Linked DNA regions of Homo sapiens: region 1 is linked to region 2. The links come from fine-mapping of genetic effects on gene expression. A gene starts in region 2. The other region holds a variant in brackets. All regions are shown on one strand. Distances are from middle to middle.

What was found. PIP is the estimated chance that this variant, and not a neighbour inherited with it, causes the effect.
Region 1: its variant is the best candidate, but not a certain one, in a credible set for the expression of SPMAP2L in testis (GTEx, PIP 0.52).

The regions. Positions count from the first base shown.
Region 1 is chr4:56,595,626-56,608,452 of GRCh38, reverse strand. SPMAP2L (sperm microtubule associated protein 2 like) reads right to left here. Exons shown (of 9, transcript NM_001256475.2): 7 at 11,822-11,953; 8 at 7,344-7,519; 9 at 4,946-5,244. The coding sequence ends at 5,130. It also overlaps the pseudogene GLDCP1. Among named protein-coding and RNA genes, the nearest start is that of SPMAP2L, 71 kb to the right of the region's middle. RefSeq lists an enhancer at 1,732-2,233. The variant A/G (reference allele first, on the strand shown) is at 5,159.
Region 2 is chr4:56,524,176-56,537,002 of GRCh38, reverse strand. It overlaps SPMAP2L (sperm microtubule associated protein 2 like), which reads right to left and starts at 6,397. Exons shown (of 9, transcript NM_001256475.2): 1 at 5,834-6,397. The coding sequence starts at 6,326. LOC105377665 (a long non-coding RNA gene) reads left to right here and starts at 6,517. Exons shown (of 4, transcript XR_941077.1): 1 at 6,517-6,653; 2 at 8,586-8,627; 3 at 11,069-11,161. It overlaps ARL9 (ARF like GTPase 9), which reads right to left. Exons shown (of 4, transcript NM_001363794.2): 4 at 12,550-12,827. RefSeq lists an enhancer at 5,390-5,923.

The DNA of each region.
Region 1 (12,827 bases), 71 kb before region 2:
AGGGGTCATTCTTCCATTGTCTTGATTAATAGCATCTGACTTCCTTCTAGCCATACTAATCGCCTTACCAAACATTCTCTTGGTCACACTCTTGGTGTTCTCTCTCAACCATGCTTCTTATCCTTTACAACTTGACAAGGCTGAGACTTTTCCAAATCTTTAAGTTCTGCCTCTCTTTTAATTATAAATTCCATCTTTAATTCAATTCTCACTTCTCACATTTTATTACAAGCAGTCAAGGGAAGCCAAGCAGCTCCTTCAACACTTTGCTTAGAGACTTCTCCTGCAAATATCATATGAATACAATGTAACCAAGGTTCTTTTTTTTCTTTTTGTCACTTATTAACTTACTTCTGTAGTTTCCACTATCTTGTTCCTCATTTCCATCTGACACTTCACTAAAATGGCCTTTACTGTCCATATTTCTTTTCTTTCTTTCTTTTTTTTTTTTTTTTTTCTTGAGACAGGGTCTCACTCTGTTGCTTAGGTTAGAATGCAGTGGCACAATCATGGCTCACTGCAACCTCAACTTCCCAGGCTCAAGTAATTCTACCTTAGCCTCTGAGTAGCTTGGACTACAGGCAAGCACCACCATGCTTGGCTAGTTTTTTAAAAAACATTTTTTTAAATAAAAATGGGGTGTCCCTATGTTGCCCAGGCTGGTCTTGGACTCCTGGGCTCAAGCTATCCTCCCACCTCAGTCCCTCAAAGTGCTGGGATTACAGCCGGGAGCCACCATGCCCAGGTTACTGTCCATATTTCTGCCAACTGTCTGGTTCATGACCACTTAAGTAATCTCTAAGAAGATTGAAGGTTTCTCTACAACTCTTCTGAGTTCTCACCAGAAATCGCCCTTAATGCTCCATTCATGGCAACACAGGCTTTTTCTAGCCTGCTCCTCTGAACTGTTCCAGTCTCTGTCCATTACCAGTTCCAAAGCTGTTTTTACATTTTTAGGTATTTGTTACACAGTACTCCACTCCTGGTACTAATTTTCTGCCTCAATTTTTTGGGCTACTATAACAAAACACCAAACACTGGCTAATTTATAAAGAACAGAAATTTATTTCTCACAGCTGAGGCTGGGAAGTCTAAGATCAAGGTGCCAATAGATTCGGTATCTGGTAAGGGCTTGTTCTTTGCTTCCAAGACGGCACCTTCTTACTGCATCCTTACATGGCAAAAAGAGAAAAGGGATGAACTCACTCCCTCAAGCCCTTTTACAAGGGCACTAATCCAATTTATTAGAGCAGAGTCCTTCAGACCCAATCACCTCCTGAAAGCCCCACCTCTGAATACTATTGCATTGAGGATTCAGTTTCAACATGAATTTTGGAAGGACACAAACATTCAAACCAGAGCACTCTCTATCCTGTTTCATAACCTAGAAATCCAGAAGTTATCTTGAATTCTTTCCTCTCCCACTCCCCATATATAACCCATCATCAAATCCCATAAATCCACCTTCTCAAATCGCTCTTGAGCCTGTCACTTCTTACTGTCTCCACCATGGTACCAACAAACTATTTTCACCTTTAAAATGACGTACTAAATAACCTCCTAACTTGGCCTACCCACCTCCACTGCCCCCTTCCCAATTTATTTGTCAGAACTATTACTTCAAAAGCCAACTCTGATCACATCACCCCATGCTTAAATTACTTCAATAGCTTCCCTTTGGTTTTAGGATGAAGACTAAAATCCTTAACCTGTCCTCCAGTGCCCTACGTGGTCTGGTCTGGCTCCCATCCTTCAGCCTCCTCTTGCTTCACACAACCTCCTATTTCTTTCTGTTTGAGCCACACTGGCAATCTTTCAGTCCCTGATGCATCCTTCCATCTGCCTCAGGGGATTTACTGGAAGGCAGTTCCGGCATCAGAGGAATAGCCGGAGCACCAGGGTAGGAGTCAGAACAGCTCCAGGGACACAGGTAGTAGGAGAAAAATGAAGTCTCATCAGGGCACCTATATGGGAAATATCAGCTCCATCACCCTTGCTTCACTATGCTTAAGATCCACAGTCCCAGAAGACAGTTCAATGGGTGTGGCTGACTTGGGTTACATATCCATACCTCGGCTAGGAAACCTTGAATAAAAATCCCCATAAAGCTTTAAACAATGAGGAGAAAGTAATTCTCCAAGAGCAAATGCGCAGTTCTTATCAGAAGGAGGAAGAATGAATTCAGAGTGATCCAAAAATCAACAACTGTCCACTTAACATATGTTCCCACTACTTGGAATGTCTTCCTGTATCCTCTTTGGTTAGTTAGTCCTACTCAGTTTTCAGTGTTGTACCCAGGTGAGTTAAGAAAACGTCACACTTTGAGACGAATTAAGAGTCCTTTATTAAGCCGGCGGCCAAAGAGACGGCTAATGCTCAAAATTCTCTCGGCCCCGAGGAAAGGGCTTGATTAACTTTTATACCTAGGTTTAGGAAGGGGAGGGGGACTCAAATGTAATAATTCTACAGAAGTAAAAACATGCAAGAATCAAAAGAATCAAAATGGTTACAGAGTGATAAACAACTTAAAAGACAAATGGTTACAAGAAGAGCAACGGTACCAGGTGCAAGGTTCTAAATCTTTTATTATAATTAGATATAGGGTTTATGCCGGACACGAACTCAAGGTTTTATGTTGTTATCTCTTGGAGAAAATTCCTGGGAACTTCATACGTTGTTGGTGTTGGTACCTTATCAGTTAATTGGGCTCCTTTGAAATGCTGAGGATCTGTTTACCCAGGCCAACTCCTCACGAAAGGGGGTTGGGTGAGGAGCCCTAGTGTCTTGTAAATTAAGGGGCCAATTGGAGTTTGCCCAGCTTTCCTAGCTAGAGAGTCTTATTTACATGAAAAGCAAGGCTAGGTGATTTAAAGAGACAAGCAGGACAAAATTCAAAGTAATGAGTTGAAGTAAAAACAAGGTTAGGCATTTCATCAGCATCCAACCCAGTTGTTCCTTCATTAGAGAAGCCTTCTCTCACTTTCCCATGGGATCAAAGTTCTCTATTCTGTTATTTCATAACACTATTTCATAGTACTTGCTAGTGTTGTAATTTTACATTTATTGGTGAATATTCTAATGAAATCATCTCTCCCAATAAGCTAAAGAGTCCGTGAGAGCAGAACCCATATCTGTTTGGTTCACTGTGTTATCTCCAGTGCCAAGCACAGGGCCTGGCAAAGCAAAGACACTCAACAGACATTCATTTAATGTAAGAATCAAGGCATATTTTCCCCACTGATATGAATTATGCCACTGTACCCTTAGAAAGCTAGCACAGGTAAATTTCTTATTTTTAATTTCAATAGCTTTGGGGGTACAGGTAGTTTTTGGTTACATAGATAAGTTATTTAGTGGTGATTTCTGAGATTTTGGTGCACTCATCACCCAAGCAGTGTACACTGTACCCATTATGTAATCTTTTATTCCTCACCCCCCTACCAGCCTTCCCTCTGAGTCCCCAAAGTCCATTGTATCATTCTTACGCCTTTGCATCCTCACAGCTTAGCTCCCACTTATAAGTGAGAATATACAATGTTTGGTTTTTCCATTCCTGAGTTACTTCACTTAGAATAATGGCCTCCAACTCCATCCAAGTTGCTGCAAATGCCATTATTTTGTTTTGTTTTACGACTGAGTAGTATTCCATGGTGTACATATACCACACTCTCTTTATCCACTTGTTGGTTGATGGGCATTTAGGTTGGTTCCATATTTTTGCAATTGTGAATTGTGCTGCTTTAAACATGTGAAACACAGCTAAATTTCTTTTCTTTTCTTTTCTTTTTTTTTTTGAGATGGAGTCTTGCTGTATCACCCCAGGCTGGAGTGCAGTGGTGCAATCTCGGCTCATGGCAACCTCTGCCTCCTGGGTTCATGTGATTCTCCTGCCTCAGCCTCCTGAGTAGCTGGGATTACAGGTGTGTACCACCACACCAGGCTAATTTTTGTATTTTTAGTAGAGACGGGGTTTCACCATGTTGGTCAGGCTGGTCTTGAACCCCTGACCTCGTGATCCATCTGCCTCGGCCTCCCAAAGTGCTAGGATTACAGGCATGAGCCACTGTGCCTAGCCACAGCTAAATTTCTAAATAAAAATTTTTGTTTCAAATATATACTTTATTATATACATTTTATCATCTAATCTTTACAAGAATGCTGCAGGAACCCATTTTCTACATAAAGAAACTGCAGCACAGGGAGTTAGGAAATTTGTTTAAGATCACATACCTGGTAAATAATCCATGACAGAGACAACTTCAGGTTCTATCTGATTCCAAAACTCAAGTTCAAAACTGCTATGTGGTATTACCCCTCTGTAACACAAAGACGTTAAAGGTAGAACTCATTCATCTGTAAAATTGGCTTTCAAGTAAGTTCATTTTCATGCAAATCTAGATATGCCCCATAAAAGTTAGTTTAATTTGTAAAATACTGATCTATAGAGAGAATAAAATTCTGGGCAGATGCAATTTTACAGAGAATTTTAATGCTTACCAAACAGCTTTTTCTCTCATTCATGGTAAGTGACTCTGGCATGAGTAAAGGAACAGAGATTGGTGACATCATCATTAAGGTAACCTGTTCCCTAAATTTCAATTATAAATTGTATTTATAGACTATAAAAAGTATTTCAATTTTTCCAAAAGAGCTTCACTTTTTCAGTGTTTTTTCTAAGTAATAAGGGGATGCTGAAATAACACAAAGAATGATTTCATTTCCCAGGACTTACTGGAGAAGGGACTGAGGTAGGATCAGTTACTGGGGAACATGGAACTCACTGGGAAAGGAAAAGCAAAACCCACAAATATAAGGAAGAGTGTTTCTTCAGGTCAGCTACAGCAATGAGGCAGCCAAGATGCTTGTGAGGAAACAGTAAGGATAATGAGGCAGTCTCTCATTTTCTCATTTATTGCATGCTGGAGTCCTCAAATCTGCTAAAGATTCAGCGACAGGTTAACAGCAACAACTGCTATTTAATGATCATGGTGGTTTTCCCTAAAGGTCTCATTTTGTGGGAGGGGAAGCAAGGGGTGAATGTAAACTGACAGTACCGCAACAGGGAACTAAGTCATCTAATATGTGTTCTAGATACATAACCAGGGTCTGACTGTTGTGGCTTTCTGTATTTAACGTGTAAGAGGTTGTGACAACTCCC[A/G]GATCCTTTGAGAACACTGTGCTTTCAAAGCAGCTGGCTTGGTTTTAAAGACATCTGGATCATAATACACAATACGCACAGGAGCCCTGAAATAGGGGAAAAAGAAATCAACCTGAAATAAGATGAACAGAGAAGGTAGCTAATGTTTCTCAAGCATCCACTGTATGTTATGTACTATGATATTATCCCATTTTATTTTCATGACCTCCACTATACAGATAAGGAAATCAAGACTCAGTTAAATGAAGTTAAATGAATGAATTTACAGACAAATCCAGATTTATATGTCTCTCAGATTCCAAAACCTTTTCTCTTTCCCCAGAAAGTAAATTCAGGAAGTTGCTTAGTCTTGAACTTGAGTTTTGGAATCAGACAGACCTGAGTTTGTATCCCCTATGTATCATTTACCATAACATAATTTGTCAATGTTAAAACAAGCCAGAGTATTCTCTGGTAGACTTAAGAAAATAAAATTTTTGAAGTTGGCCACTCTCAGCACCTTACCACCAAATAATAATTTTGTCACCAGGATAAAAACCTTGATAATGCACTTGATCATATTCTTCTCTTTTACTTTTTATTTTATTGTTTTATTTTTTTGAGACAGGGTTTCACTCTGTCACCCAGGCTGGAGTGCAGTGGTGCGATCTCTGCTCACTGCAACCTCCTCCTCCCAGGCTCAAGTGATTCTCCTACCTCGGCCTCTCAAATAGCTGGGACTACAGACGTGCACCACTATGCCCAGCAAACTTTTTTGTATTTTTAGTACAGACGGGGTTTCACCATGTTGCCCAGTCTGGTCTCAAACTCCTGGGCTCAAGTGATCTGTCTGCTTTGGCCTCCCAAACTGCTGGGATTACAGGTGTGAGCCAACGCATCCAGCCTCTTCTCTTTAATGAACAGAGAATGAGCTTCATTTCATCTGATGGCAAATTTATTTTTTTTAAAGGATAAACACATTACAGCATTTTAAACATGTCATTATATAAGACTAGCATATTTCCTTTTCCCTGAGCTCAAGACTTCCACAACTTTTTCTGCCTCTCCTAGGTTTTGCTATTGATGCTTTAAAAGAGGGATCAGATGTTATCCGTCAAGGTAACAAAATTAATTGAGGCTCGGGCAAGTTAAGAGGCCTCCAAAAAATAAACAGAAATGAGAGGCAATGTTTTTCTTTGTTAATTATATATTCTTATCTATTTGAATTAGGCCATACACGTACATGATGCAAAACATTGGAAAAATACAAAAGCCTATTTATTGAAAAATAAGTCTTCCTCCTATCCCAATTCCCTAGGCCCCCAAAGGCAACCATTGTTACTAGCTTCTTGTATACCCTTCTGAGATACTACAGGCATATGCAAACAAATATATGGCCCATGTCTTTTTTTCTTACACAAATTGCAACATATTACATGCTGTGTTCTAGAATCTGTTTCACTTAATAATATATGTTAGATAAATAATTCCATACACATACTTATCAGACTGTCTCCTAGATCTTAAGTTTCTTTTTCCTTTTTCCTTTCTCTTTCTTAGAGCCAAGGTCTTACTCTGCTGCCTGGGCTGGAGTGCAGATCATAGCTCACTGTAACTTCAAACTCCTGGGCTCAAGCAATGACTTCCTGCCTCAGCCTCCCAAGTTGCTAGAACTACAGGCACATGCCACCACACCTGGCTAATTTTTGGTATTTTTTTGAAGAGATGGGGGTCTCACTTTGTTGCCTAGGCTGATGTCAAACTCCTGGGCTCAAGCGATCTTCCCACCTCTGCCTCCCAAAGTGTTGGGATTACTAGTATGAGCCACCGTGCCTGGCCAATATTTTTAAAGAATTTTTTGTAGAGACAGGGTCTCACTATGTTCCCCAGGGTGGTCTCCAACTCCTAGCCTCAAGCTATCCTCCCACCTTGGTCTCCCAAAGCACTAGGATTACAGGTGTGATCCACCTGCCCCATCCTAGATCTAAGTTGCAATACCTAGTCCACTAACCTTTTAACAGTAGCCTTATATTTAGGGTAAGAAGACCATAGATGTATCACAATAAATGTAATTCGTTAAGTAAGATGTTTTGGAAGTTCTTTTCATATTTCTACAACTCTTTTCATTTGCCTTATTAGGTCAACTTTCTCCCTCTCCCCAGAACCCCAGCCTTTCCTGTCCCACTTTAGCCTGAAATTGACATACCTCTTATTTGGATTAGCTAGTTCCTGAATCCTAGGTGATGCTTTGGAATGAGTAGTAGCATAAGATACTGGCCAATGGGCATCACGGTCAGGTAGATAATCTTGATGAACAGACTTGGACTTCGCTAGAGCTATTGTTCGGGGGCTAGGTTTAGCTATCATGGCAGCAGGAGGTACCTATAGTGGAAACAAAGAGACACAAAAATATATCCCAAATTTTACATTTCTCTATGTCTATAGCTATATCCCTACTTAAGTCACAATCATTTCTTTTCTGGATTACTGCAACAGACTCGTAACTGGTCTCTCTGCTTCCATCCTTGCTCCTGTACAATGCAGCCTTCCATGACAGTTACTGAGGGAGAGAATGAACATATAATGAGTGTGTTCTGTGAGCCAGACAGTGTTCTAAGCTTTACCTAAATCATTCCCACTTAATCATCACAACAGCTTCATGAGCTAAGTACTTTCTAAAGCCCAAATCAGATCATATCGCTACCAGGCTTTAAACCCATGCTGGGCTGGATGCGTTGGTTGCTACCTGTAATCCTATCACTTTGGGAGGCCAAGGCGGGTGGATCATGAAGTCAGGAGTCTGAGACCAGCCTGACTAACACGGTGAAACCCCGTCTGTACTAAAAATACAAAAATTAGCTGGGCTTGGTGGCCCGTGCCTGTAATCCCAGCTACTCAGGAGGCTGAGGCAGAAGAATCGCCTGAACCAGGGAGTCGGAGGTTGCAGTGAGCCAAGATCACACTACAGCACTCCAGCCTGGCAACAGAGTGAGACTCTGTCTCAAATAAATAAATAAATAAACCCATCCTATTGTTTCCCATTTTGCTAAAAATAATACTTAGGCTCAGCCAAGCACAATGGCTTGTGCCTGTAATCAGTCCCAGCACTTTGGGAGGCTGAGGTGAGCAGATCATTTGAGCCCAGGAGTTCAAGACTAGCCTGGACAAAATGGCAAAACCTCATCTCTACAAAAAAAAAAAAAAAAAAAAAAAAAAAAGAAAGCAAAGAAAAACAAAAATTAGCTGGTTTACATTCCCACCAACAGTGTAAAAGCATTCCTATTTCTCCACAGCCTTGCCAGCATCTGTTGTTTCCTGACTTTTTAATAATCACCTTTCTGAATGGTGTGAGATGGTATCTCATTGTGGTTTTGATTTGCATCTCTCTAATGATCAGTGATGTTGAGTTTTATTTTCATATGTTTGTTGGCCACATAAATGTCTTCTTTTGAGAAGTGTCTGCAGCACTATTCACAATAGCAAATACCTGGAACCAATCCAAATGCTCATCAATGATAGACTGGATAAAGAAAATGTGGTACATACACACCATGGAATACTATGCAGCCATAAAAAAGAATGAGATCATATCTTTTGCAAGGATATGGATGGAGCTGGAAGCCATCATCCTCAGCAAACTAACACAGGAACAGAAAACCAAACACTTCATGTTCTCACTCATAAGAAGGAGTTGAACAATGAGAATGCATGGACACAGAGAGGGGAACAACACACACCAGGGCCTGTCAGCGGCAGGGGGTGTGTAAGGGGAGGGAGAGCATTAGGACAAATAGCTAATGCATGTGGGGTTTAAAACCTAGGTGACAGGTTGATAGGTGCAGCAAACCACCATGGCACATGTATACCTATGTAACAAATCTGCACATTCCGCACATGTATCCTGGAACTTAAAGTGAAAAAAATTAAAAAATAAAGTAAAAAATAATAATTTTGAGCAAAAAAAATTAGCTGGGCATGGTGGTGCATGTCTGTGGTCACAGCTGCTCAGGAGGCTGAAGTGGGAGGATCACTTGAGCCCAGGGAGGTTGAGGCTACAATAAGCTGTGATAGCACCACTGCTCTCCAGCCTGGGTGAGAGAGTGAGATCCTGTTTCAAAATAATAATAATTATTACATATTATTGTGTATATATACATATATACACACACTTAGTGTATTCTGTTTTCACACTGCTATGAAGAAATATCTGAGATGGGGTAATTTATTAAGAAAAAGAGGTTTAATGGAATCACAGTTCCATTGGGGAGTGGCTGGGGAGGCCTCACCATCATGGCGGAAGGCAAAGGAGGAGCAAAGGCACATCTTACATGGTCGGGGGCAAGAGACCGTAAGAGCCCAGCGAAGGGGGAAGCCCCTTATAAAACCATCAGATCTCATGAGAACTCACTAACTATCAGGAGAACAGCATGGGGGAAACCACCCCCATGAGTCAATTATTTCCACCTGGTCCTTCCCTTGACATGTGGGATTATTACAATTCAAGGTGAGATTTGAGTGGGGACACAGAGCCAAACCCTATCACTTAGGCTCCTTCTGTGGCCTACAAGGCCCTACATGATCTGCCTTCTGCCCCACCCCTCTGACCTCATCTTCCTCCCCTCCTCTCCTTGATCCCTGTGATTCCAGCCACACAGACTCCCTGGACCAGGTCCTTCCCTCTCAGGACCTTTGCACTTGCTAGTTCTCCTTGAAAAAAAAACTTCCCTTAGCCTTGGCTTGGCTGCCTCTCCCTCACTCAAGTCTCTAGACTCATACATCACATTCTTCAAGGAGATCTTCCCTGGCCAGGCAAGACAAGTCAGCCTAATTACCCTCTTCTGCAGGACTTACTTAATCTTCTTCATAGCACATGTCAACACCCACATTAGCTCATTTATCACTTTGTTTATTGACTGTATTTCTCCCCATTAGAATATAAGCTGCTCAAGGGGAATTACTTGTTTGCTAAAAGCTAAAATTGGCTCTGGCACATAGTTGGTGCTGAATAAACATATACTGACTGACTCCTTTTGGTCTTACTTTAAAAACCACATCTACCAGATTGCCTTTCTGTTATGTTGCTTTATTGGTAAAATACCTAGGATGACATCTACTACTCTCTTTTAAATGCTCACTCAAAAGAATTAGAGTGGGGCTAGCCATGATGGCTCACACCTATAATCCTAGCTCTTTGGGAGGTTGAGGCACAAGGATCACTTGAGCTCAGGGGTTCCAGACCAGCCTGGGCAATATAGTGAGACCCCTGTCTCTACAAAAAAATTTTTAAAACTTGGGGGTGGTGGCACATGCCTGTAGTCCCAGCTGCTCAGGTGGCTGAGGTGGGAGGATCACTTAAGCCCAGAAGGTTGAGGCTGCAGTGAGCCATGATCGTGCTGCTGCACTCCAGCCTGGGTGACAGAGCAAGACACTGTCTAAAAAAAAAACACCACCATCACAAAAAAAACAAACAAAAGAATTAGGGAGGACAGCTAACACCACTCTCAGTAGTCTTGAAAGTGTTCTGCATTGCACTGGTGCAGATTTGTTTCGGGTTCTAAGACTATGATTTTCTGCAGTGGTATTCCTTTTTTCTAAAGACCTTAAAAAATAAAATAAACCCAAACAATCCTAGCAATTAAGGAAAGATCTCCATTACTTCCATTTTTACATACCAAAAAACTGAGAATAAAGTCATTTGCCTGACAGTCACAAGTCACTTTAGTAAACTTAAGACACTCGTCCAAGAGTTTCTGATTCCCAGAATGGTTTTCTTTCCTAATAGAATTCCATATTAAATCCTCAGTTTCCTTGAAACAGGGTGAAACTGGCCCCACCTCTTTTGGCAACATGATCATTAGATATTTTTTGAAAACCCAATTGGAATAGGGCACCAAGTTGGCACTGCAATTGATGGTGGGGAATGTCAAGGATGAAGAGGGAGGGAAGCCATCAAAGGTTCCAGGCTCTGTGCTGAGTGCCATGACTTACCTGTTATTGCTCAACACAGCAGACCACTCGGTGAGGGCGGCTATCTCCAGAATTCTCTAGCTCACCTTGCTCCACCCAATTTCAAGTGCATCCCAACTTTAGTACTTTGGCATGTACTCTTCCCTTTACTGGAATATTCTTCTAGATCTTCACTTGGTTGACTCCTTCTTACCAGTCAGGTTTCAGCTCAAATATTCCTTCCTTAGAGAGGCCTTCACTGACTACCATAGGCAAAGTATCTTACCACCCTGCCCCACAGTCATTCATTTTCTATGTTATTTTCCTGATAGCATTTAGCATGATCTGACATTATCTATTGACTAATTTATTGTTTGTCTCCCCTGATTAGCATAGAGCTCCAAGTTGTTCACTGGGATCACTGCCTGGCTCACAGTAGGCATCCAAATATTTGTTGAATGAATAAAGCTCAGGAAGTTTGTCCCAACATCATAGAGCTTGTAGTGACGAGGCTGCAATTTGAATCCAGCTCCAAAACTGAACTCCAAAGCCCATGCTTTTGGTGTTCTACTCTTTTCCCTCTCTCCCTATCATCTAGCTAGTCTCTCTTCCTGCCACAGACCACTCTTCCCAGATTCTCTTTTCCAGTGACTTTGGGCTATGCCCTGTAGAGGCAAAATAGCATCCTAAGAGCAGCCAAAAAGTGAGCTGAAGGATACCAAGGTAGCGATGGCTTACAGGACGGATGGGCAGTTCACTTCTTTGTCTTTCATAGCACAGACCCTCTAACTTGATCCTTGGGTGGGCAAGCTCTATAATTCTTGGAGTTGCAATCGCACTCAGGGTAGAAAGTGAAATCTTGGTTTGCATCTAGGGGAGAAAAATAAAACAGTACTTATAAGCATCAAGTAATAAACACTATTTAGTTCAAGATTACAAAGTATGATTTGACCTCTGGGCCAGACTTCTCAACACTCCAGCAGAAAGGGTGGGAATCTTGCAGTAACCTATAATCACAGCTGAAAGGATCAATTTCTATCTTTCTCAAACAAGATTACATGGATTCCGATGTAGCTTTTCTTTTTTTTGTTGTTGTGTTTTGTTTTCCAATCAAAATGCTTTTATTAGAATACTAATAAATGCAGATAAAAAAAACCTCACACAGAAAAAGAGGAAAACACTCAGAAATGTGATTACAGATTAGGCATATTAGAGGAAAAAGAGTTCTTCAGGGTATACAAAATGTAAACATTTGTCCTGGGATTTCCCACAGATGGCACAGTCCACATGGACTCTTTTGGAACAAAAAAATGTCTATTAAGTCTCCTGGATAGCTTCTATAAAGTCTGCAAACTTGCCACATTAAAAGTTAAAGTTCCTAAAACTTTCTATGCAAAACACAAAATGGCTCCCAATCCAGGCAACTGGCACACATGTAAGCAGAATACCAAAGCAAATCTGTCTTCCAACCATCAGCTTCGACTCCCTCCAGGTACTGTATTTACATTTACCTCGACAGAGATTACAGAGATATACACAGTATATAAAACTCCTACTTGAGGCTGGGGTGGGAGATGAAATCTTTCTTGCTTATCAAATGCTCTGGGGAGAGGCACCAAATCAGTCCTTTAAACTTAGGGAGAGAGGACTAAGAAGAGGCCCTCTTTTGTTCAGAAAATGGCAACTCATAAACTTCCATGGGTGGGCAGGTACAAACCAGGTGCTGATCTCCATATATGTCATC
Region 2 (12,827 bases):
CACCTAAGGTCAGGAGTTCAAGACCAGCCTGGCCAACATGGTGAAACCCTGTCTCTACTAAAAATACAAAAATTAGCCAGGCATGGTGGTGCATACTTGTAATCCCAGCTACTCTGGAGGCTGAGACAGGAGAATCGCTTGAACCCAGGAGGCGGACTTTGCAGTGAGCCAAGATCATGCCACTGCACTCCAGCCTGGGAAACACAGCAAGCCTCCATCTCAAAATAGTAATAATAATAATAACACTACAACACTACTACTACTACTAGCTAACATCTACTGAGCACTTACAATGTACCACATCTGTTCTAAGACCTTTATGGGTATTAACTCTTTGAATCTTTTTGACAATGCTAACGATAGAGAAGAAACCATTGGATTTGGTAACACAGCGGTCAAATGAAGAGATCTTTCATTCAACAACAATTAATTCCTGACTTGTTCCAGGCAAGCTTGAGGCACTAAGGATGAAAGACAAAGGTCCTGCCTCCATAAGAGCTTAACGTAAAAGAGTAAACAAATAGATATATCATGCAGCCCCATAAGTGTCTCAAAGAAAATGAGCAGGCCAATAATGCTGTTTTTGGTACCCCATGAAAAGGAGATGACAAGTTATTTGAAACAAGAGTGCCCTGGCAGAGGAGAAAGCAAGTGAAATGATCCTGAGCTCAGAGCAAGGATGCCCATGTGCCTGCAGAGCAAAAACCGACAGGGGAGTAGTAGGACATGATGTCATGGACATATCAGGTCAAGTTCAAGGTGAGGTTAGTGACAGGCTCAGATCAAGTGGGGCCTTGTAGGCCTGCTAAGGACTTTAGAGCAGGGGTTCCCAACCCCCGGGCTGTGGACTGGTTTTGTCTGTGGCCTGTTAGGAGCCAGGCTACACAGCAGGAGGTGAGTGGCAGGGGAGCAGGCATTACAGCCTCAACTCCGCCTCCTGTCAGATCAGTGGTGGCATTACATTCTCACAGAAACAAACCCTATCGTGAACTGCGCGTGCGCATGTGAGGGATCTAGCTTGCTGGGTCCTTATGAGAATCTAACTAATGATTGATAGATTGATCTGAAGTGGAACAGTTCCCCCCACCCCTTGAAAAAACTGTCTTCCACGAAACCCGTCCCTGGTGCCAAAAAGGTTGGGGATCCCTGCCTTAGAGGTGAGAACCCTGCCTGAGGTGAGAACCCATTCTGGAGGGTTGAGAGCAAGAGAACTGCATATAATTTATGTTCTAAGGGACTTCTGTGACCAGTGTAGGTATAATGAACCGGGGATGGTGCAAGACAAGAACCCAGCTGGAGGCTACTGCAGTGGACCTGTAGCAGGACGAGGCACAGACAAAACCCCTCAGACACCGAGTTAAAGAAGGAAGGGCTTTATTCGGCTGGGAGCATCAGCAAGACTCATGTCTCAAAAACTGAGCTCCCCGAGTGAGCAATTCCTGTCCCTCTTAAGGGCTTACAACTCTAAGGGGGTCTGCATGAGAGGGTCATGATCGATTGAGCAAGCAGGGGGTACGTCACTGGGGGCTGCATGCACCAGTAATTAGAACAGAACAGAACAGGACAGGGATTTTCACAGTGCTTTTCCATACAATGTATGTAATCTATAGATAACATAACCAATTAGGTCAGGGGTCGATCTTTAACGACCAGGCCCAGGGTGTGGCGCTGGGCTGTCTGCCTGTGGATTTCATTTCTGCCTTTTAGTTTTTACTTCTTTCTTTGGAGGCAGAAATTGGGCATAAGACAATATGCGTGGTGGTCTCCTCCCTTAGACCAGGCAAGAGATGATAGTGGCTTACAAAGATGATGACATTTTAAATGTTAAGAAATGGCCATAGTCAGGATATAGCTCAAAGTTACAATTTGCTAATGGCTTAAAGTCTGAGTGTAAGAGAAAAACAGGCGTCAAGAATGATGCTAAGGTTTTTAGGCACCTGGATAAATAAATGGTGGTGCCATTTGCTGAAATGGGAAACAATGAGGGAAGAGCACATATGGGTGCTGCAGGAAGACTTCATTGGTGGGCACATTATGGTTTTTTTGTTGTTGTTGTTGTTTGTTGTTGTTGTTGAGATGGAGTTTCACTCTTGTTGTGCAGGCTGGATTGCAATGGTGCAATCTTGGCTCACTGCAACTTCCACCTCCCAGGTTCAAGCGATTCTCCTGCCTTAGCCTCCCGAGTAGCTGGGATTACAGGCATGCGCCACCACGCCTAGCTATTTTTTTTGTATTTTTAGCAGAGACGGGGTTTCACCATGTTGGCGAGGCTGGTCTCGAACCCCTGACCTCAGGTAATTCACCCACCTGAGCCTCCCAAAGTGCTGGGATTACAGGCGTAAGCCACTGCACCCAGCCCACCTTATGTTTTACATGCCAAATTGATATTCAAGCGGGGACGATAAATCAATGACTGGTTATAAAACTTGAGTTTAGGGGAAAAACTGAGGCTAGAGATAATTTGGGAAGTTACCAGAATATAGTTAAGGCCATGGAACTGATGACCTCACCCAGGGAATAAGGAAAGTTCTAGAAGAATGAATCTGAGAGGACTAAGCCATTGGTCACTTCAACCTAAAGGCTGGGAAGAGGAGGATTCAGCAAAGGAAACTGACTAAAGAACAATCAGTGAGGTAGGACAACAGAGGTAGAGGCATCCCAGAAGTCAAGTAAAGAAGACTTCTAAGAAAATAAGAGGTTAATGTGTCAAATGAGTAAGATGAAGATGAAGAATTAGCCATTGAATTTCACAAGGCAGCGATCATTGTGACCTCAACAAAAGCCACTGCAGCTAAGTGGAGGGGATGAAAATGTAAGTGGTTCTCTAGAGAAGGGGGAAAAAGGGGGAAAGAGGACATGGATATGATGACTTGCAGGCAATTCAATTGAGAAATTTTTCCTCTAAAGCAGAGCAAAGAAATCATGGTACCTGGACGGGCACATGGGGTTCAAGGAAGGTTTGGGGTTTCTTAAAGATAAGAGTTATTGTGCATTTTGCTGTTGTCGTTGTTGTTGTTTGGTTAGTTGGTTTTAGTTTTTGTTTTTGTTCTTGAGACAGAGTCTTGTTCTGCTGCCCAGGCTGGAGTACAGTGGCATGATCATACCTCACTGTTGCCTCAAACTGCTGAGTCTGAGGTGATGCTCCTGCCTCAGTCTACCAGTAACTGGGGCTACAGGTATGTGCCACCATGCGTGGTTAATAATTTTTTTTTTTTTTTTGTAGAAAGGAGGTCTCACTATGTTGCTCAGGCTGATTTTGAATTCCAGCCTCAAGTGATCCTTCCACCTCGGCCTCTCAAAGTGCTGGGATTACAGATTTGAGGCACCGCATCCGGTCCATTGCACATGTTTGTATGCTGATGGGAATGATCCAGCAGAGGAGGAATACAATGATGCAGGAGAGAGAGGCTAATTTTAGGAGCAAAGAGCTTAAAGAAGTTAGATGGGATTGAAATCCAACATATAGATTGAGGGAAAGGCCTTTAATAAGAGCAAGGACATTTCATCCATTATTAACAGGAAAAAATGTAGAGTACATATGTATAGATGCTGGTATTTTGGTAGATTTCATGGTGGAAAGATATGTAGATCTTTCAGAATTTCTTCTATTCTCAGTGAAGAAAAAAGTGAAATCATCAGCTAAGAGCGAGGAGGAAAGGATGCATAAGGTTGAGGAATGAGAGCACTCACCATAATTTCTGGGACAGCTGGAAAATAAATTGACTGTGGAAATACAGTATGACTGGCAAGCAGCACTGAGAGCCCACTTGAAGTTCAGGGGCATGGATTTAAAGGTCAGTTATCATAGTTGGCATAGTTGTTTGCCTTTCTCTTGCCATTATCTGTTATTCCAAGTGCAGGCAAGGGTTCGATTTAACAAGGCAAGAATGACAGAGGGAGAGAGAATCAAGGGAGTAATTCCATTGTTGGTCCATGGAATATAAGGTGAGGAGAGACAGCAGGACATAAGATAGTGATATATAATGAAAAGTTCATAGGATCAATGGATTTGAAGTCCCTTAAGCTGAAAATTTGATAGGGGGGTTCATGGAGGAGTGAGCTGGAAAGCTAAGACATGGTTAGAGATTAGAGTGCTTGAAATAGTCTGGAAATGGTAGAGCAGTTAACAATGGCTTTGATAGTGGGTGCCTACGATGGGGTGAAGGACAAGATCTTTCCAAGTGAGGAGATCAGAGAACTGAGAAGCCAAATGGATCATCCAAGTGGATATGAAATCTCCATGCATGATGATAGGAGTGGCGGCAGAGAGAAAAGCAGTAAACTAGAGCAGTTTTGGGAGAGTAGAGGAAAGAAGCCTAACCAAATGTGTTGAGAATGAGAGGTGAAGAAATTGAGTCAGTGAGTATAGACAACTCTTTTGACAAGTTCTGCAATGAAGAACAACAGAGAAATGGGGGTGATGCTGGTGGAAGGGGAGAGTCTGAAAATGACATGGGGTCAAGAGTTATTTCAAGATGGAAGATTCTAGAATATGTGTATGATGGTACTGATTAATTAGGGAGAAATTGATGCTGTAGAAGAGAGAGGATAACTGCAGGAAGAAAGTTCTTCAGGAAATGAGAGTGGTATCTAAAGCATAAGTGAAGGATTTTGCTTTTCATTAAAAAAAAAGGCACAATTCTTCCCTGAAATATGAGAAAAGGCAGAATTCATGGGTACAGATGCGGGTAAAGCAATAGATCCATTGTAAGAAAATAAGGGATTTCATGATTGATCACTTCTATTTTCTCGATAAAGAATGGGGCAAAGTCTTCAGCTGGGTGGGGGGGTCAAAGGTGTGAAGTTTAGAGGAGAGTAAGGCAGTTAGTCATCTTCAGAGACTGGGAAAACCAACTTACTAAGGGAATAAAGTGAGCTTGCCAGGCAGTGCCAAGTGACCAGTTGAAATGAAATTGAAATAAACCAGACAGTATGACTGTGCAATTTTGCACAGCAAGAGTCAACTGCTGAGGTGTAGGAAGCGAGTAGATGGACGGCTGGGTTTAATCAGGGTTGAGGTTTTGTCAGAAGTATGATGGATAACCAGAGAGCCAATGGAATGGTGGAAGACATAAGGGAGCAACTGCAATGGCAGACCATGGAATCGAGGCTGGATAAGGAGCAGTCAGTGAGAACATAAGATAAAAATTGGTTTCCCAAAAGATTGGCGGTCCAATGAGGACAAATAATTGCTTTGGGTTGGGTCATTAGTGAGGGGTCATAAATGAGCGAGTGGGGTCAGAGCAAGGATGTTTATAACCAAGTCCCATCTGCTCTGTTACCTTGTGAAGGTGGTGAGGACTGAGCATATCGTGAGCACTTTGTAGATGCATACTCTTTGAATACTTGCTCAATGAATGCTTTGTTTCCACATGTGACCATATGCCAAACACTGACGAAAATATCCTCCCTTCAAGGATCACTCTCTTTAGTTAAAGAGAAAGATGAATGGTGAAATACAAGATCTTAAGTGCTCTAATAAGGGTAACATTCAAAGTGCAACCCAGAGGGATGCAATGACTAACTGTAGAGGCGAATGAAGAAGGGCTTCAAAAGGAGGTAACAATAGCTCATTAGATAGCAGTGGAAGACAAGAGATTCAGCTTCTCTCATTATCAGGGTGTCAGTTTCCCATCTGAGTCCCTTGAAACGCAAGGGCTGATGACTGCGAAGCAACAGGTAAATGACACGAGTTCTTTTCAATATGGCAAGCTCTTGCATGCAAACCTCCACCTTAGGACCCCCGGTTCTAGATGGGGCGTGGGTGCTCAGCGCGTGGGGAATGAGGGGAAGGGAGAAGCAGGAGAGGGGACGAGGGAAGGGGAACACCTACCACCCAGGAAAGACAGCTGAGGCCGTGGCGGGGCTCTGGTGATCAGAGAGGGGGAGATCATTACTGCGGCGCTGGGAAGCAACTCGGTTTCCTTGGCCTCGCGGGACTTGCGGGGCTCACGGGTGTGGCGGAGCTGGCGGGGTTCACGGGCCTTGAGGAGTTTGGGGGCTGCATGGGGCCCATGGAGTTCGTAAGGTGCATAGGAGTCCCGGGGCTTGTGGGGCGCATAGGGAGCGTGGGGCTCATAGGACTCATGAGGCTCATCACATTCCTCGGACTCGTCTCTCTGGTCTTGCTCCCTGACCTCCTCGGGTTCCTCGGGATTCTCGTGTTTCTCGGGATCCTCGGACTCCTCAAGCTCTCTGTGAGTGTCGAGAATCCTGAGCACAATGGGCTTCTGGAAGACTTCGGAGCAAGTGGATATTTCTGTTGAGACCTGCCCATCGGTCACCTCGGACGGCGCAGATGAACTTAGAAACTCTTGGTTCTCCATTCGCGCCAGAAGCTTCTGTCGCGCGCGGGACTCACCCTCCCGACTGGTTGCCCAGGCGCAGTTTGCTCTCTGCGCGATACGATAAGGGCTGCCGGGGCCCCCCGCGCCCAGCCCCGCCCCGAGCCCCGCCCCGAGCCCCGCCCCAGCCCTACACAGCCCCGCCCCGGTCTAGCCCCCGAGCCCCGCCCTAGTCCCACACAGCCCCGCCCCGGCCGGACTCAGCCTCATCTCACTCCGCCTTCCTGCGCGTTGTACGGTTGCCAAGGGGACGCACCACTCTCCAGGACCTTCTGGGCGCATCTGGGGACTAAGAAAAGCCAGAGACAGGTCGGTGGAGATAGGAGACGAGATGCTGACCCTGTTCCCCGTGTCCAGAGCAAGGATTCTCGCCTGCTGTCGTTCGCGGAGGCCCTGGGGTAGAACATGTCAGTTTCTAATCTAGTTAGGGCGCCCCTCAGACCCCAGAGGCAATCTGTAAAGAGCTTGTGCCCAGAGGTTCCTGGACACAATCTCTATACGGGCTTTTGTCCCCTAATCATGCTGGGAGAGGATGCCGAGACTGATAATATTCTAAGGCCCTCAGTTACTAACACTGATTTCCATCAATTTCTAGTTAAATGCACGACCATCAGAATGGAGCGGGGGCGGGGGGCGGGGGGTGTGGGGGAGGTGGATCCACCAGTGCGACATTTGACATAAGCTTACATTCAAGAAGAGTCTCAAACTTGAATGTTTTACTTTATCTCCACATGAAGTTCTATACACAGTCACAAAGAAACACTGACTGGATTAAAAGAAAAATATATTCATCTACAACTTGTGTCTCATTACAGGGCTCACTATCTACTGAAGCATGCTATCAGCTACTTTTTATAAAGGGCTGTAATTATCTTGTGAACAGTACAACTGTGTGCTGTGTTCTGTGGGTGCGTCCATTAATTTGTTAACTGTGGTATCTTTTAAATATACCACACTTCTTGTAACCCTGTTTTTGGCATCCTCTCTTTTTTATCACTTATTATACCAAGAGACTTTAAAAACATAGGTGGCCTGGCCGTCTCTCAATCCTTGAGGAGTGCTTTCAGCTAATTTTCATGGTGGTGACAGTGTGATAGAGGGGAATAGAAGTGGTGGAGTTTTACTGATGTGTTTATTTTCAAGGGAAGGGACTAGAGGTGTTGAGGAATAAGTTGTCTGTTAAAATATTTAGTAAACCCAAGTACCCCTTTTGCTCGTTACTGGGTATTCCTTGTATGTACTTAGTCTCATAGATGCTAAGAAAAGTTAGAAGAGAAATATTTTGGATTGTGAATGTTATCTGGAATGGAACTAGAAGATTCATTCTAGCATGTGCGTATATGAATCGGAATCTCCTTCAACCTTACTTTGATAGAGATGTGTGTAATATTGTATGGAAGTTCAGGAAATATCCCCCAAAACTTGGAAGGAGAAATAAAGCTACTCTCAGAGAGTTTTAACTCAACCTTTAAACCAATCAGGGAGGAGTTATGTAAATCCACCTTAAAGAGGCAGGATGGCCCTTAAATCAGTAAAAGTAGTCCCTGGTTACATGAAATGTCTTCGAAAGTCCAAAGAACATGTCAATTGAAAGAGGGGGATTCAGGCCACTGTGAATGTACAGAATGAGCATCATAGAGGCTGTGCCTTCTCAAAAACTGCAGAAAGGAGGGGATCTAAGCCAATAGACTGCAATTGTTACAGCCTATCTTTTAGGCCCACTTGCTATGAATGTGGTGCCACTGTATATCAAAATATTCATGTTTAGCTTTCTTTCCTTCTTTTTTATTTGGGACAGGGTCTGGCTCTGTCGTCCAGGCTGGAGTGCAGTGGAGCAATCTTGACTCACTGCAACTTCTGCCTCTTGAACTCACACCATTCTCCCACCTCAGCCTCTTGAGTGGCTGGGACTACAGGCGCATGCCACCACGCCTGGCTAATTTTTGGTATTTTTTTGTAGAGACAGGGTTTTGCCATGTTGCCCAGGATGGTCTCAAACTCCTGAGCTCAAGCGATCCACCCACTTTGGCCTCCCAAAGTGCTGGGGTTACAGGCATGAGCCACTGCACTGGGCACAGGCAGCTTTCTGACATGACTTGCTTCTCAAGGAGTCTGCTTATTGGGAAAGATTATAATGATCACATAGAATGAATTCTTTTCCAAGTCTGTCTTAGTTCATTTTATGTTGCTATAATAGAATACCTGAGACTGGGTAATTTATAAAGAATTTATTTCTCATAGCTCTGGAGGCTGGGGCATCCAAGTGCATGGCTGTGGCATCTGGTGAGTCTTTCTTGATGCAGCATAGCATAACATGGTGGGAGGGCTGAACATGAAAGAGAGGCACCAGGGCTGGACTCATTTTATAACAACCCACTCCCACCATAATGACATCATGATAAGGTCATGGCAGGCCACCCAGGCCCATCATCATCTCTCTGGATTCTACAGTGGCCTCCGAACTGGTGGAACTTCTGACTTTTACCTTTGATCACCTCCAATCATAACACTCCAAACCATTTTTTTAAATCCTCAAGCTTTGCATTATAAGGTGTTCCATACTCTGGTTATTTTTTCCCTCTCTAGTCTACTTTGAGCCACTCCACCCTTGCTGTCTACATTCTGGCCTCCCTACTCTTCTCTAAAGTGTCAAGCTCTTTCCCATTTCAGTCTCTTCTCACACCTGTTCCCACTGCGTGGAGCCCATTTCTTCCCACTGTTTACATACTGGCTCTTTTCTAGCCTCTGGGGCTCAGCTTAAATATTACCCACTCAAAGAGGTCTTTCCAGCCCATATTAATTTTAAAAATGTTCCCACCATTATTTTCTATTTCATTTCCTTGCTTCAACATAATTTGTAATTATTTCATCTGCTTGTTTATTTTTGTGTATTTCCCCAGCTAGAATGTAAGCTCCTTAAAGACAGTGAAATTCTCTGTCCTGGTTACTGGTATATTCCCTGTGCCAAGCACAGTGAATGACTGTGAATAGCTGTCATTATTTCGTTTTCCTGCCTAGAATCCCTTCCCTCTTCTTCTGAAGGCAGAACCCCTCCTTTCTGCAGGGAACTCATTCAGTATAGTTTAAGGGGCTGATCCTTCCTTCTAACCCAGGTCTGACCAATCCAGCCACAGTAATTGGTTCAAGGATGAATATGCAACCCCAGAAGAGCCAATTGGTATCCCTCCGTGAGATTTAATGGATGTCTGCTCAGAAAAGGAAGGTCCATCTTACTCTGAGATCATGAGCTATAAGAATGGCTTGTGTTGACAGCAGTCATCTTGCTGCTCTGAGGAGGGAATCTGAGAATCAAACCAAGCAGAGGTTGGCAGGGCCAGGACATGGAGAGACAGTCTTATCTTTGAACTTCTGAACTCCTGAATCCACCCATGCCCAGATTTTCCAGGATGATGAAGAAAAAAAAATTCTTTTTTTGTGGGGGTACACACAAATTTGAGTTGAATTTCCGTTAAAAAAATTTTTGTAGAGACAGGGTCTTTCTATGTTGCCTAGGTTGCTCTCTAACTCCTGGCCTCCAGCAGTCCTCCTGCTTCTGCCTCCCAAAGTGCTGGGATTACAGGCCTGAGCCACTGTGCCCAGCCTTTTTGAACAAGGTCTCATTCCATTGCCCAAGCTGAAGTGCAGTGGTGCAATCACTGCTCACTGCAGCCTTGACTTCCCCAGGCACAAGTGATCCTCCCATCTTAGCCTCCCAAGTAGCTGGGACTACAGGTATGCACTATCACATCTGGCTAGTTTGTTGTTTGTTTGTTTCTGGTGTGTATTTTTTGAAGAGATGGGGTATCACCAAGTTGCCCAGGCTGGTCTCAAACTCCTTGGCTCAAGTGATCCACCTACCTTGGTCTCCCAAAGTGCTGGGATTACAGGCGTGATCCACTGCATCCAGCCTGAATTTCCTTTTAACTGAATTTATTTTTAGCTGAAAGAGTTCTGGCACATTTTCTGGCACATGGTGCTCCCAAAATGTTTACTGAATGAAAAGGCAGATCCACTCTTGGTGTGCTAACTAAACCTACTTTCTAACATGACTCAGCTTCTCAAACCTGGAATGCTTGTAAGCCCGGAAGGCTGGCAACAGACACGAGATTGTGGTAAAGTCTCCAAGGTCGTATGCCACCCCATTAGGCCCATTGGGCAGGCTACCAGCCAGGCAGCCTCTCTGACAATACGCCAATCTGTCTTGTTGTCTAGTGCCATTTCTGTTAGAAACCCCCATGACACAAACCCTCATCGTTAGCCTGAGAGCATCTCAAGTACAGAATCCCTGCTTTGTTCACCCTGGTGTCAAGCAATGACTGCCATGTTGGCACTCCATAACTGTCCACTGAAGGAAAAACTCCAGCCACAACACTTGTTGCCAAAATGCAGAATCTAAAATCAGAATCTGAGATTAAAAAGACCAAACAGGGAAGAACAGAGATATTGTTCCCCATCCTGAAAGCTTTTGGCCTTATCTTTGAAATAAGCATCCAGAAACTTCTCTATGTCCCTGATCACCTTAGAAAACCTAGGGAAGGGACAAGCACATAGAATCAGAGTTTAGGGCTGGAAGTGGTCTGCATCTCACTTGATCTTTTTACAAGGACAAGACCAAGACAGTCAAGGAATTCATCCAGGGGTCCATTCGCGGTAATCCTTGGGGCAGAGGTTAAAATCCAACATTTCTGACAATTCCGAATCATTGTGTGATCCACCCTCCATAGGCCAGACAAGAAGAAGGTTTAACATTAGACACCTGAGTGGCTGCTGTGATAAGATACCATTAAACATGATGGCGTGGTGCTGATATGAGAAAGGTAATGATTTTAAAGGCTCACTCTCCAATGTCTCATCTCGCAGAGGGCAATCATCATTTTGCACATGCATGCATAAATTCAATTGTGTTCTATTTTAACCTAAAACTAGAGACAGTTATGTGCTAATATTGAGAGGGGTTATCTTCACCAAATTTGGATTTTTTTTTTTTTTTTTGAGACAGGGTCTCACTATGTTTCCCAGGCTGGTCTCAAACTCATAGGTTCAAATGATCCTCCTGCCTCAGACTCCCAAAGTGTTGGAATTACAGGTGTGAGCCACCACGTCTGACCCCATATTTGTATTATTTCACCACAGATTCCAAATTTTATTTTATTTTATTTTGTTTATTTTTCTTGAGATGGAGTCTTGCTCTGTTGCCCAGGCTGGAGTACAGTGGTGCGGTCTTGGCTCACTGCAACCTCTGCCTCCTGGGTTCAAGCGATTCTCCTGCCTCAGCCTCCCGAGTAGCTGGGATTACAGGTGCCTACCACCACCCCTGGCTAATTTTTTGTATTTTTAGTAGAGACAGGTTTTCACCATGTTGGCCAGGCTGCTTTTGAACTCCTGACCTCATGATCCGCCCGCCTCGGCCTCCCAAAGTTCTGGGATTACAGGTGTGAGCCACCACGCCTGACCCCATATTTGTATTATTTCACCACAGATTCCAAATTTTAAAAGGAAGGATTTATAGAGCAAACTCTCTTTACAATTTTTCTTAAAACCAAAGCAAGGCACTATAGTTACAAGTTGGATTTACAGAGTGTCTGCAAATAAATATAGTTATCACTCTTTCTAGTGAAGAAAGTTTATCTATATAAAAGCAAAATGTTAAGAATTTTAAAAACAAATCCCCACAATGTTCCTCATCTCGTCTAACAAGCTCCTGGAAAAGAAGCCCTTCCTAACTCTTTCTGAATACTGTTAATGTTTATTTCTCTGGGGGTTTGACAAAGTTCACTGTCCTCATTGTCCTACCCTGATATTTCTTATAGTGTTAAACAGATCCACTTAATGGAAAGACACCCAGTTTTTTACTTGAAAAGAGAAAACATACTAAAATATATTCAAGGCCAGGTGCAGTGGCTCATTCCTGTAATCCCAGGACTTTATGAGACCGAGGTGGGCAGATCGCTTGAGCTCAGGAATTCGAGACCAGCCTGAGCCACATGGCAAAACCCCATCTCTGCTAAAAATAGAAAAATTAGCCGGGCATGGTGGCGTGCACCTCTGGTCCCAGCTACTTGGGAGACTGAGGAGGGAGGATCACCTGAGCTGAGATCATGCCACTGCACTCCAGCCTGGGCAACAGAGTGAGACCCTATCCACCCCCACAAAAAAATTTCATATAAATTTCATGCCATTGCAAAACAATAAATGGGACAAATGCTTGCTAATGTTCATTTTACCTTTGTTGATTAAAAATCCCAATACCCCCAATACACTGTTTTACAAATATTTTTAACATTCAAAATCCAAATAGAGATGCTGTTATTATGTTAGCATTATCTTTGTACAGTTGTCCGTTGGTATTCTCAGGGAGACTGATTCCAAGATCCTCACAGGCAAATGTGGATGCTCAAGCTCCTGATGGAAAATGGCATATTTACATATAACCTACACACTTCTACTCGTGTATTTTAAATCATCTTTAGATTACTTATAATA